Homo sapiens: one gene and its partner. The protein of the gene in region 2 purifies or fractionates together with the protein of the main gene of each other region. This does not show direct contact. Each region holds a gene or a part of one and is shown on either strand. Other genes may lie near its edges.

Region 1 (7,030 bases), on a different chromosome or scaffold from region 2:
TCTCCTGCCTCAGCCTCCTGACTAGCTGGGATTACAGGCGCCCGCCACCATGCCTGGCTAATTTTCTGTATCTTTAGTGGACACGGGGTCTCACCAGGTTGGCCAGGCTGGTCTTGAAGTCCTGACCTCAGGTAATCCACCCACCTCGGCCTCCCAAAGTGCTGGGATTACAGGTGTGAGCCACTGAGCCAGCCCAAGTGGCTTTTTTTTTTTTTTTTTTTTTGAGATGGAGTCTAGCTTTGTCACCCAGGCTGGAGTGCAGTGGTGCGGTCTCAGCTCACTGTAACCTCCACCTCCCAGGTTCAAGTGATTCGCCTGCCTCAGCCTCCCGAGTAGCTGGGACTACAGGTGCGTGTCACCATGCCCGGCTAATTTTTGTATTTTTAGTAGAGACAGGGTTTCACCATGTTGGCCAGGATGGTCTCGATCTCTTGACCTCGTGATCCGCCCACCTCGGCCTCCCAAAGTACTGGGATTACAGGTGTGAGCCACCGCACCCGGCCCAGAGTGGGTATTTTAAAAAGATGGCCATCCTCATAATCTGATTAAACATTTGCTAATAAGGTATTATGGATAGTTTTATCAGAGTGATTAATGTACTTACTAGAAATTAAGAGTAAATGCTAAAAACATTTTACATTTTCAGAAATGTAAATACTTTCATATTCAAAACTGCTGGCAGTGTGGTGGCTCACACCTGTAATCCCAGCCTCCCTTTAGGAGGCTGAGGCGGGTAGATCACTTGAGGTCAGGAGTTCAAGACCAACCTGGCCAACATGGTGAAACTCCAACTCTACTAAAAAATACAAAAATTAGCTGGGCATGGTGGAGCATGCCTGTAATTCCAGCTACTTGGGAGGCTGAGGTGCACCAGAATCGCTTGAACCTGGGAGGCAGAGGTTGCAGTGGGCCGTGATTGTGCCACTGTACTCCAGCCTGGGCAACAGAGCAAGACTCTCAAAAAACAAAAACAACAAAAATCCCCCCTACAAAACTGTCAAAAAAGGCCAGGCACAGTGGCACAGTGGCTTGCGCCTATAATCCTAACACTTTGGGAAGCCAAGGCAGGAGGACTGCTGGAGTTCAGGAGTTCTGGACCAGCCTAGGCAACAAAGCAAGACCTTGTTTCTACCAAAAATTTAAAACATTAGGCAGGCGTGGTGGCATGTGCCTACAGTTCCAGCTACTCAGGAGCCCAGGAGAACCAGGCTGCAGTGAGCTATGATTGCACCACTGCACTCCAGCCTGGATGACAGTGAGACCTTGTCTCAAAAAGAAAAACAAATTGCTGAAAAACATTCTTTTTTGCTTTCATTATTTTAGGACTCTGAATTTAAGTACTGCTAATCTACCACATTACCCGGGAAGCTGCATTCAAGAACAACATTTACAGATTCTCGAATGAGACTACAACCTCCCACAAGAGATATTATTTACTGTCATTTATGCTAGTGGGTATTTTACCCTTTATTGCTATTATATATGGTGTGACATCAAATTTCCCCCAGGAAAGAAGATTTTGATTTCCCTCATTTAAAGGTTCCTCTTAGCTGTTCTGTCAGGGACGTACATGCTTGTTAAGGTTTCTCATCTTCTACAGGCTCGCTGTGGTATTCTGCCACATACAGGCTCTTATCAATGTTGCTCGGAATAGGTTTAATTTCTGTTCCCAGCTGCTCCTCAATACTTTTCAGGTTGAAGCGATCATCATATGTGATCAAGTTGATGGCTAAGCCAAGATGACCAAAGCGACCTAAAAAACATGCGTTTAAAAATTTTAATGAATAAAATATGAAAATCAATGTGAATTGTGCAAGTCAAGCAGTGGCAAAACCACACAGGATTGATAATGATGTTCAGTGCCATTCTTAGTATGCAAAACAACTTCTTAATGGTCTTCAAACACAGGTTTCCCTACAACTTCAGGTTTCGCAGCCCAAAATAGTACTTCATTTCACCTTTCTCAAATGACAAAATGGCAGTCAAAACTGCCATAAAATACACATTAAACAACAGTCACAGAACATACCACCTAATGAGTGAAGTTCTCATGTGTTAATTTCATCTCAAATTAAGCAGTTATTTTAACTTTTCTTAATAAATGCTACAGAAGAATTAGAAATTAGTCTTAAATACCAAACAACTGAATTACTGTTAATTCACTGTTCTCATAGCTACTGTACTCTATTTCACAAAAGAACAAAATTTAGTCATTACACGCCTCAAAAAAGAACTTCTACCAAGAATATCACCTCTTTTTTCCTCACCTGATCTTCCAATACGATGGAGATAGGTCTCTGCCAGCTTTGGGAAATCAAAGTTTATTACCACATTCACAGCTTGTATATCAATACCTCGGGTAAACAGATCTTAAAAAAAAAAAGATAATTTTCATTTTTTCAATTTAGAAATGTCTCTCAGTACAATACTAACACATATTTCTAGCATAACCTAAGTTTATTAATTTAATTCAGTTATTCAAATGCATTTGCACATTACTGGCATTACCTTTCATAATCACATTATCATAAATAACTTTCTGCTCCCAAGTTACTTTTTTCCAGTAATTGTAAGCAAGTTTTAAAAAATGTGTCTAAAAGAGGCTGGGTGCACTCAAGCCTGTAATCCCAGCACTTTGGGAGACCAAAGCAGGAAGATCACCTGAGGTCAGGAGTTCGAGACCAGCCTGGCCAACATGGTGAAATCCCTGTCTCTACCAAAAATACAAAAATTAGCCGGGCTAAGCGGTAGCAGGCGCCCACAATCCCAGCTACTTGGGAGGCTGAGGCAGGAGAATCACTTGAACCCAGGAGGTGGAGGTTTCAGAGAGCCAAGATCGCACCACTGCACTCCAGCCTGGGTGACAAAGATTCCATCCCCCTCCCCCCCCCCCCCAAAAAAAAGACAGAGATGAGGTATGAGTGCCAGAGTAAGTCTTCTAAAGTTTCAGATATGGAACCCAGTATCAGGAGCTGACAAGAGTTCATTTTCAACTTCAGAAATCCTAGAAGTAGTGGTAGGGTGTGTCGGACTATGTCACAGGTTGCACTATGTAATATGAACAGAGAAAGCAAAAAACAACTTGGGAGAAAAACACTGGGTAAAGGAAATACAAAAATACTTACCAGTGCAAACAAGATTGCGGCATAAGCCATTTCGGAAATCATGAAATACACGATTTCGATGTTCCTAGGAGAAAGCAATGTATTCCATTTGATTAACACTCATATACAGCCCCAAATTTCCCATAATTATTTCTCCCAGACGATCAGTTCTACCCAAAATCTGTTTATAAGTGATCCATGATATTAAGCTGCTTTCAAAACCAAATGAGTTAAGTTCTTGATATCTTCGTCTACAGAAACTGTTTACTTACGAAATTTCATAATGTAGTTAACAAAAAAGTCATTTTTGTTACAGTTTTAAATTATTTTTTGCTAAATCAAATTCTGAAATTTAGATATTGTATCTTTTTCTAAAGGCAAACAGTAAAGAAAAAAAGAAAAATCAGCCAGCTGAGGGGCCATATTTAAAAATCCAGAGCAGTGCTGTCCAGTAAAACTTCTATAATAAAGGAAATATTTGTGTCTGTACTTCCAATTCCAATACACTATCCAGTAGCAACAGGTGCCTAACTGAGCACTTGAAATGTGGCTGTGATTGAGAAACTGACTTTTTATTTTAATTTTAACTGATTTAAATTGCCACATGTGGCTATTTACTGTATTAAACAGAGAATTAAACATGGAAAGGAAGGGAAGAATAAAATTTTACATTTGTATCATGCCTGACAGCTTCCAAAGTACTCATTTAAACATTTATCTTAATTTTCCTAACAACCTTGTAAGTTATGAATATGTACTATTATCCCTATTTTATTGCTAGAAAATTGAACCTGAGGGAGGTCAAAATGAAAGGTCCTTTGGCTACTAAGGAACAGTTTATTCTTAAACTCAGGACATTTAAAAGAACATTAAAACAAAATAAAGAAAGAGATTTCTTATTAAATTTGTGCAAGTTCTAGTTTTATACTCACCTGCCTCATTTTAGCATGAATATAGAAGCAAGAATAACCCAGTTGAGAAATCTTCTTGGCTAGCAATTCAACTCGCTGAGAGGAGTTACAGAAAATGATCGACTGGTTTATCTGAAGCTGAGCACAGAAAAAAATAAGTATGAGAAAAATAAAAAAAACCTTCATTTGGTTTGCCAAATCTTGAAAACACGAACCAGCAAAAAAGAAACATTAACATGGTCTAAAACTTAGAATCTCATGATATGAGAGAGATGGTAAATTGTAAAAATTGTAAATAATAGATGGAAGATAATAATATCTAAGATTTACCGTATTAGAGTATATTTCTTAAGGGCCACATAACTGTCAACAAGAGTAATACAATTGATTATCTGATTCAAAGTAGTTATGTTTTATGTGTTTCCATTTAAAAATATTTTATTTTATTTTTTTTTTGTGAAATGGAGTTTCACTCTTGTTGTCCAGGCTGGAGTGCAATGGTGCAATCTCAGCTCACTGCAACAGCTGCCTCCTGGGTTCAAACAATTCTCCAGCCTCAGCCTCTTGAGTAGCTGGGATTACAGGCACCCACCACAATGCCTGGCTAACTTTTGTATTTTTAGTAGAGACAGGGTTTCAGCCTGTTGGTCAGGCTGGTCTTGAACTCTTGACCTCAGGTGATCTGCCCACTTCGGCTTCCCAAAGTGCTGGGATTACAGGTATGAGCTACTGTGCCCAGCCAAGAATACCTTCTTTAATATACTCACAACCAATGCCACCAGCATTGGGCAGCACTTCAGCACCATGTGTAGGGGCCAATTAAAACTGTGAAATCAGCAACAAAAACTTGAAAAACATGGCAGACTGTGAAAAGGACCCTTGTTCACAGTATGAGAGCTAAACAAGAGGACAGAGATTGCTTTCTTCGACCTCAGCTGGGAATGTGCATGTCAGGTGACTTAAACTCTTTGCCACACTGTACACGTCCACAAATGACTGCTGAACTACCTTGAGTATTAATTCCGGAGTTACAAATAAATTCTAGTGACTAAGCAAATTCACAAATACAGAATATGTGAATAATGAGGATTAACCCTAGTTAAGGTCAAAGTATTTCAGAAACTATTCAAAAGTGTATCTGTGACTTGGTTAATCATTTAGTATCAACTTTAGGTCAACAACTAAACCTGCCTTTTAGGAAACACTATGAATTATTTTTTAATCTTTTTTTTTTTCTTCCCAAGACGGAGTCTTGCTCTGTCGCCCAGAGCTGGAGTGCAATGGTGCAATCTCAGCTCACTGCAGCCTCCGCCTCCTGGGTTCAAGCAATTCTCCTGCCTCGGCCTCCCAAGTAGCTGGGATTATGGGCACACGCCACCATGCCCAATTTTTTTGTATTTTGTAGTAGAGATGGGGTTTCACCATGTTGGCCAGGCTGGTCTCAAACTCCTGACCTCGTGATCTGCCTGCCTCAGCCTCCAAAGTGCTGGGAGGCATGAGCCACCGTGCCAAGCCAGAAACACTACGAACTTTTATACAGTGAAGACGGTGGGAAAATTGATGAAATCATCTGTTTTACTGGGACTCGAGAGATAATATTCAACAGCAGAAGCCTACTTCTTACCCTGGAGAAAAGTGTGTTGAGGCAGTGTACTTTTTGGCGCTCAGTTACATATGCGTAGTACTGGGTTACTCCCTTCAGAGTTAGTTCCTCCATCAGGTTAATCTCATAGGGTTTCTGCAAATGGGAATTCTGGGGGGGGAGCGGGAAAAAGATGAGTCGTCGTCTTAAATGAAAGCAGAGTTCATCTCAAATTCAAAATATACCCTATACGTTTCTGTCCGATAAACTCTTGCTGTAAGGGACGCAACTCTCTTCAAAACAAAATATATGATCTGTCATTACAGAATTTCCCCCCTGCCACCCTGAGACAAAATCTTGCTCTGTCACCCAGGCTGGAGTGTAGTGGCACGATCTCTGCTCCCTGCAACCTCCACCTCCCGGGTTCAAGTGATTCTCCTGCCTCGGCCTCCCGAGTAGCTGGGAATGCAGGCATGCACTGCCATAACAGACTAATTTTTGTATTTTTAGTAGAGACGGGGTTTCACCATGTTGCCCAGGCTGGTCTCGAACTCCTGACCTTGTGATCTGCCCGCCTCGGCCCCCCAAAGTGCTGGGATTACAGGCATGAGCCACCATGCCCGACCCGATAGAAATAAATTAAGATATAAGATCTCAAAAATGCAGCTAAGTTACTACAGGTTGAGTATTCCTTACCCAAAATGCTTAGGAACAGAAGTGTTTCAGGTTTTAAATTTTTTCTAATTTTGGAATATGTGCATTACACTTAGTGACTGAGCATCCTTAATTTGAAAATTCAAAATCCAAAGAACATTTCCTTTTAGCATCATGTTCGTGGCTCAAAAGGTTTCAAATTCTGCAGTATTTTGGATTTCAGTTTAGGATACTCAAGCTCTGTTTTGTATATAGAATAATACCGGAATCAATTCAGCTAGCACCAATGGCTATGTCATCATGACACCAAAAACTAAGTGAAAGATGAGGAATTTAATTAAGTTACTATTACAACCTTCTTAAAAAGTCAGTTAATTTACGTAAAACAAATCTTTAATTGATCAACTGAAGAAAGAGCCAAAGGCTTGAAATAATTAGCATAAAGTATATTCACAGATATGAAGATGTAATTACAAATAAAAGCATACTCAAAGGTCACAGGATGGCACTGATTCCAAGTACAGATTTATACTCACCATGAACTTCTGTACACTAAGAGGGAAAGTAGCGGAATATAGTAAAATCTGCCTGTTTTTAGGTAGCGTGAGAATAATATCCTCCATTATCTGCACAAAATCCTGTGACAGCAACTTATCTGCCTGCAGTAGAAAGAAAAGACAATTTTAAAAACAATAAAATAATGTCTAAGGTCTTGGTTAATACATGGTCAAAGAATAAGGCATCATCCAACAAAAGCATCCATGAAATGTTCCTGGTGG
Region 2 (7,164 bases):
GAGGCTGCCCGCTAGGTGCTGGAGTTTAACACACTCCTCTTTTATTTTCCAAGGAACTTCCCATCACACAGGGCTCCTCACGCCAGGAAACTCGGCTGTTGGGGTGGGAAGGGGAGAAAGGGAGGTGGAAGGGGGACAGGAGGCAGGAGGGGGAGATGGATGGGAAGAGGGAAGAGGGTCTGAGGATGCCTGAACTTCAACCCACTGGTGCTCATCCAGCCTCCCGGGAAAACAGCCCTGCAGAGCCCCATGCAGGAGGAAATGGATTTTAACTGGATTCACAGAGAGCAGGTCAGACCTCCATGAGAATTCCTGATGGTACAGGATCAACTCAGCCCTCCCTCCTCACCTTACTGTCCAGCCACCTGTGGGTCCCTGTGCCCCGAACACCCTCCCTGGGCCTCACTGTCCCATTCCCTGCCCGGAAGTCCTCCTAGCAAAGCTGGCCCTGAGCCTCCCCACACGGCACACCTGTGCCCTCCTCAGCTCCCTTCAGGCTGGTGCTGTTGCACCTGTGCGGTTGGAGGGTCTTCCTCGGGGGAGGGGGCCTGAGGCCTGCAGGGCCTCCCCAATCCCCTCTCCTGCGCCAGATCCTGAATGAGGGGACGGGGACGGTTGAGTCCTGTCTCACCAGCACGTGGCCACACTTCAGACCACTGACTTATCTGTGGACCACCCATCGTTAACGCCCTCTGAATTAACTCAGCTGTTTTGTGTGGCGCCTACTGAGCAATGACACCTGTGAGATCAATGGCTGTGCCAGTCATTCTTGCTCAGGGGAACATTAGAGTCACAGGATGGTTTTCTGTGGTGGGGCACCCTTACCTGCTGCAGGATGCTGGCCTGTGCCACCCCAGCTAGACTGGTGATGCAACGTGGAGCAGGGTCCTTACTCCATGTCTCCCCACCTGTCACTGGGGACCACGGCATGCTCCTACATACACAGAGCAAGCACGTAATGAGTGGCTTGTGGCTGCAGCAGAAACCTCTCCAGCTGTCCCTATGGCCCTCCCAGTGCCCTCAGCACACCCAGTTCCTACACGTTCCTCCAGAATAGCCCCTGGTTACTCTCAAAGCCCTTCACAGGCATGATCTTCCGGGGTCCTCAAGCACACCAGTGAGATGGACAGGCAAATGAAGAAACTGAGGCAGGCAGTCCAAGTGGCCCAGGGTTTCCCAGAAGCCCCAGCTCATTCCTCCAAATCCTTGGGCTCGCTGGTCTAAAGCCTGGTGATTACCAGGCAGGTGGGCTGTTCAGACCTGTGCACAGTAAAGAGCTGCTTATAGTGGAGGTGCTGGATACATGTGCCCCAGCCTGGAAAACAAGCCATGCCAGTGAACGTCCAGGTCGACTTAGGCCTGGCACAACTGTCGCCTTCTCAGACCTCACCCAAGTGCCCTCCACTTTGGGCAGGATACCAAGGAATGAATGGCAGGGCCTGCATTCCTGGACCTGGGCACTACGTATATTTTTAGCCTCTGCCTTCCTGGGCATTTGCAGGGTGGCTAATGTTCTCAGGGAGCCACCAGCTGCACACCCACGGGCTGGGCAGGCACTCGGAGGTCTCTGGGAACTGCACCCTCCCTGCCTTCAGTCCGGGGGCTCAGAGGCCAGCTCCTTTTCAAGGCAGAATCAGCTCCTGCTAGTGAAGCATGCACCCCACCCCCAACACAGCCAGAAGCCTGTGGCTCAGAAACTAGGAGGCATGAAGTACAGGATTTGTGACCTTGGATTTCCTTACTTGGAAAATGGGGTGGGGTGGGGGGACAGAAGGACTTTGACTCCACATGGGATCACCAGGCCAGCTCACTCAGGAGACCTGGTTGGCACCTCCTCCTGACAGGTGCACCCTGTATATCCAAGTGGGGAAGGATGTGCTGTGTTGAGAAGCTGAGAGTCTGGGTCGCGCTTCCCAGGGCCAGATGCCCCAGTCGCTGGAGACCTCTCCTCCCTGAGCTGGGCTGACTCCATGGCTTTGCTGTCTCTGTTCTCTTCCTGCATATGATGTTCCAGGAGCCAAGAAGCAATTCTAGAATGTACAGGTCAATCTTGGCAGATGAAACTGAATTTTCCCTCTTCTCTTCTGCTTCCTGTGTCCCCTTCCTTAAACTCATCACTGTTCTCTTACTGGCCATTGCCGGGCTCTGGTGGGAGCAGGTTGGCTTCACCTTTGTGAAGAGACAAGAGACAGTGTGATGCGGCCCCAAGCCTGTGGAGGATGCCACCAGGCCAGACTGCAACTTCTCTGCGTGACTCCCCCGTGCTGGGCCTCTGTTTCCCCTTCTGTCAAATGGGGAGTCACAGCGTCTACCCTGCAGGGCAGGTAAGATCTTCTTATTATAGTCAGAAACACATTCTAGGTCCTTACCAAGTCCACACTTACACAAACAGGTGAATTAAATATTTCACAAAATAATACTTACTTTCACCATGCGAGATACTATTATTTTCTTTTTTTCCTTTAGAAATAGGGTCTTGCTGCCACCCCTGCGTGCAGTAGTCCAATCACAGCTCATTGCAGCCTCCAACTCCTGGGCTCAAGTGATCCTCCCGCCTCTGCCTCCACCTCCCCAGGAGCTGGAACTACAAGTATGTGCCCCCACACTCGCCCAATTTTTTTTAAAGTTTTTTTTTTTTTTGTAGAGATGGGGTCTCCATATGTCGCCCAGGCTGATCTCAAACTCCTGGCCTCCAGTGATCTTCCCGCTTCGGCCTCCCAGAGTGCTGAGATTACAGGCATGAGCCACCCACCACGCCATCTGATATCTTCTAGCTTATTCTATTTCATTTTTATTATTATTTTTCTTGAGACGGGGTCTAGCTCTGTCGCCCAGGCTGGAATGCAGTGGTGAGATCTCTGCTGACTGCAATCTTCACGTCTCAGGCTCAAGCGATTCTCCTGCCTCAGACTCCCGAGTAGCTGGGGATTACACGTGTCTGTCACCACGCCCGGCTAGTTTTTTTGTATTTTTAGAGTAGAGACAGGGTTTCACCATTTTGCCCAGGCTGGTCTTGAACTCCTCACCTCAAGTGATCCGCCCGCCTCCGCCTCCCAAAGTGTTGGGATTACAGGCGTGAGCCACCGCGCCCAGCCTATTGCATTTTTATAGTCACCACCCACTACTTTTTTTTTCCAGGACCCAATATTGGTCCGTGATCTGATGATGTTCACGGTCAAGACGGAAGCAAAAAAAGCACACACCGCGCGCCCTCGGTCACTAATCACGCGGAGTATACGCGAGGAGGGCCCGCAGCTAAGCGACGGCGGGCGGCCGAGCTTCCTCCACGGCCGGGGAGGTGGGCAAGGCCTCCGGGCCGCAGCCCCGGGTACGAGCGGAGGCTCCGAGGCCCCCGGTAGCCAGTCAGAATTTATTTTAAGGGAAATGGAAAGCTGCGGCAGGCTTTGGGAGGAGGGGCAGGATTAAAAGAGAAAGTGTGCTCAGCATGTTATATTTAGAGGCTGCCACGCCGGAAGCGCCGCCTTCCCGGGAGCTGCCGCCGCGCCCGCCCCCCGCCGGCACCTGGGCACTGGGGCGGGAGTCCCGGGGCTGCCCGGGAACACCCGGCGCCCAGGGCCTCCGCCACTCCCCGGTCCCCCATGAGGGTGAGGGCTATAGGCGCATCTGGCCCAAGATAGGGGAGTCGTCCGGACCCCACTTCTGTAGGAGGGGAAACTGAGGCCAAGGGGGCAAAGCCCCCGTGTTCGCGGCGCCCAGGGTCCGGGGCGGCGCCGGCACGCGCGCGGGCGGGGCCTGGCGCTCCTCCCCGGTCCCGCCCACTGAGCGTGCAAACCGCAGCCGCCCGCCCACGCGCACGCGCGCTCCTCCCGGGCCGCTTCCCACCCCTCCCCCCGCCCGCTCAGTCTCGTGCTCCCAGCTCCGCGAGGGGCCCGCCGGGAGCCGGCCGAGGGTGGGGCGGATCGCCGGGGAGACCCGCCCCCGGCCAGCGGCGCCTTGCTGCGCAGGAACGACGCGAGGGCCCGCCCCCCAGCTGGCGGCCCGGCCATATTTAAAGGACGGCGGGCGCGGCGAGCCAATGGGCGGCGAGCGTGAAGGGGCGGTGCGTGGCGGTGCGTGGCGGCGCGAGGCCCCGGATGTGGCTGCGGCGGCCCCTCCTCCCCCGCGCTCCTCTCAGAGCCCCAGTCGCGCGCCCCTTCTTGGTTCGCTCGGTGCCCGCGCAGGCCCCTCGGGCGGTGGCGAGGAGGCGCCCAGGCGGAGGCGGCGGCGGGCGGAGGAGCGCAGGAGCGGGCGGCCAGGCCACCGCGCGGCGGCGGAGCGGGCCGCGGCCCGGCGCTCCTTCCCCACCGCGGCCCGACGCACCCCGGCCGCCGCCATGAGCGGCTCCTCAGGCACCCCGTATCTGGGCAGCAAGATCAGCCTCATCTCCAAGGCGCAGATCCGCTACGAGGGCATTCTCTACACCATCGACACCGACAACTCCACCGTGGCGCTCGCCAAAGGTAGCGGCCGCCGCCCGCCCGAGCCCGCTGACCCCCGTCCGCCAACAGCCCCGGCCTGCGGTGCCCTCCCCGCCCCGGGGCGCCCCGGAGCCTGGCGCCCAGACCCCGCCCAGAACCCACCCAGGGCACACCCGGCCCGAGATCCCCTGCCCGCGCCTTCACCCCGGACGCCCCCGAGGCGCCCCCTTCCCGCGCGCCACCCTCCCCCAGCGTAGCCGGCCGCACAATGGTCTCCCTGGGCTCCCAGGGCGGCGGGATTGTGCGCGGGCGCCCGGCGGTGTTTGGTGAGGGGCGGGCCCGGCCCCCGCGGTGCCGCCCCCTCGGCCGCCCAGCCCACCTCTGCAGGTGCCAGCTCCGAGGAGCAGGGCGGCTCCCGTCAGCGGGCCTCCTCCCCGCCAGCCTGGGGGGATCCCTGCGGGGGAGCCTCGAGGTCGGGTGGCGGGGCCAGTGTCCCGGCGTCTCCCGAAGGCTGGGGGTGGGGTCACAACACGCGAATCCTGCAAGCCTTTCTGGAACTTATTAGACAGCTGGGGCCTTGATCCTGAACAAATACCGCGTCCTAATGCGGCCTCCTGCCAAGGCAGAAGCATCCGTTGGCAGCCAGATGCCCCGGTTTAAACGGTTCTCCTGCTCTATCCTGACCTTCCCACTGTGGGGCTTACCTTTTGGTGACAGCCGCCTGTGGGTGCTCGTAACCGGCTGTGGCCGCTGGAGGACTTACAGGAGGGGGGCTCTTTAGAGTCAGAATCTCTGAGGTTGTTGAGGCAGCGGGTGGTCCAGAGTTTCTTTGTCTTCATCACCCAGAGAAGACGGGGAGTGCACTTCCCCTGCCTCTCAGAGAAAAGTGCCCGTGGAGCCACGTCTGCCTAAGCCCGTGTGTGTGCTGGATCTGGCGCTAGGCTCCCAGGGGTTCTTGAAGTGTCTAGACGCGTCTGAAACGCTGCTTAGGTCACAGGGAACTTCATGTGTAGAAGAACGCACTCATTCCAAACAGGGAGTGTCTCCTTTTGAAGCCCGTCTCCTGCGTGGCTTCAGGAGCTTGTTGAGTATGCCAGGGCTATGCACTCACTTGCAGCCATGGAACCTCACTACACTTATTACAGGAGAGCCCAGTTAGAGAAGCTGAGGCCCAGAGTAGGCCCAGGAGTTAGCAGGAGTTGTGTCTTACCAGTTAGAGGCTGCTGTCCCACCCACCTCTGCCCCTAGAGGCTTGCTAGAAAGAGACTTGGGCGCTCCTGGAAGCCTGCTGGTTAGGGGTTAGTAGACTCAATTCCTTATAGATGCGGAAGCCGGGGTCAGAGGTCCATAATCCTGGGACCCTGTCTCCCTTTGTTTTCTGTTACAGCTGTTCCAAGGTTTGTTATGGATAGAAGGGTAAGGGCAACACTCGTCTAGATTCCTTTGTGAGAAAACTGCCTCCTCAGGCGCAATGTGCGGTGAGGCTTTGGGCATAAAGCAGCCGGCTGGCTGTTGGATCTACAGAGTCAAACGTGAACAGGGAGGCCTTACGAAGCAAGCCTTGTTTTGCTGAGAGCTCTGTACGTTGGTGCCTTCGCACATCAGACTGTCAGTCTGTGAAATTGTTCCTTGTCATCTTTGTGATCTAGAGCTGTCTGTTGTCTGGAGCTTCACCAATTGGTGCATTATCAGCACTGTCCATTGAAAATCGGGGCATTAAGTAGTTGTTGAAATGTGGACCTGGGGTGCTGTGTTGTGGCTCTGAGCAAGTGTCGCCGTCTTTTGGAAGGCTTGGGAGCAGTGGTGTCAGGGTTGATTGAACTGGCTGAGGACAACAATAACGCTTCTCTTTCTCCACTCATAAGTGAGGTCCTTTGGCACTGAAGACCGTCCCACAGATAGGCCTGCGCCCCCCAGAGAGGAGATTTATGAGTACATCATTTTCCGAGGAAGTGACATCAAGGATATCACTGTGTGTGAACCTCCGAAAGCTCAGCACACACTCCCGCAGGATCCCGCCATTGTTCAGGTAAGTGTGCCACTGTCCCTCTGTGCATGCTGTAGGAGATGCTGGTTTCCATTTGGAGCTTGGTGGCATGTTTGGTCAGAACGCTCAATGTGAGGAATAACCTTTTTTTTTTTTTCTTTGAGGCAGCGTCTCGCTGTGTCACCAGGCTGGAGGTCAGTGGCGTGATCTCAGCTCATTGCAACTTTGGCTTCCCAGGTTCAAGCAATTCTCCTGCCTCAGCCTCCCGAGTAGCTGGGACTACAGGGACGCACCACCATGCCCAGCTAATTTTTGTAATTTTAGTAGAGACGGGGTTTCACCATGTTGGCCAGGATGGTCTCAATCTCTTGACCTTGTGATGCACCCGCCTTGGCCTCCCAAAGTGCTAGGATTACAGGCGTGAGCCACCACACCCAGCCTGAGGAATAACCTTTTAATGAAAAGTGGCTTAACTTTTGTCCAGGCTGTTGCTGCTCTCACAGAAGGTGTTGATTCTTGTAGCACACACAGTAGGTGGTGTGTGCTGTGTCACGTGGCTCTTAAGGAAGGCGACCTGGGGAGTTGGGTGTGCATGTGCGCGTGTGTAGTGTAGTGTGGTATGAGTGGATGCTCCTGGACCTGTGATGTTTCGGGCATAGCGTTTGCCCTTAGTTTCTGGTTGGAGAAGTCTGAGCCCTGAGCAGCTGCTGTGAGTGGCGTGACCTACCTGCAGGGACTGCAGGGCTTGCCCTCGGGTTA

Evidence for each region. The genes of interacting proteins can lie anywhere in the genome.
Region 1: the proteins of LSM14B (region 2) and DDX6 purify together in Homo sapiens (affinity purification with mass spectrometry; 5 studies listed by BioGRID and IntAct, with this or other methods). This does not show direct contact.

What each region holds. Positions count from the first base shown.
Region 1 is NC_000011.10:118,753,135-118,760,164, forward strand, and holds part of DDX6 (probable ATP-dependent RNA helicase DDX6), read right to left. Parts: intron 6,911-7,030; coding exon 6,788-6,910; intron 5,769-6,787; coding exon 5,640-5,768; intron 4,154-5,639; coding exon 4,037-4,153; intron 3,190-4,036; coding exon 3,126-3,189; intron 2,370-3,125; coding exon 2,268-2,369; intron 1,754-2,267; coding exon 1,578-1,753; 3' UTR 1,571-1,577; intron 1-1,570.
Region 2 is NC_000020.11:62,118,334-62,125,497, forward strand, and holds the start of LSM14B (protein LSM14 homolog B), read left to right. Parts: upstream 1-4,141; 5' UTR 4,142-4,333; coding exon 4,334-4,460; intron 4,461-4,771; exon of another isoform or gene 4,772-4,890; intron 4,891-5,122; exon of another isoform or gene 5,123-5,351; intron 5,352-6,283; coding exon 6,284-6,447; intron 6,448-7,164. UniProt on the Homo sapiens protein: mRNA-binding protein essential for female fertility, oocyte meiotic maturation and the assembly of MARDO (mitochondria-associated ribonucleoprotein domain), a membraneless compartment that stores maternal mRNAs in oocytes.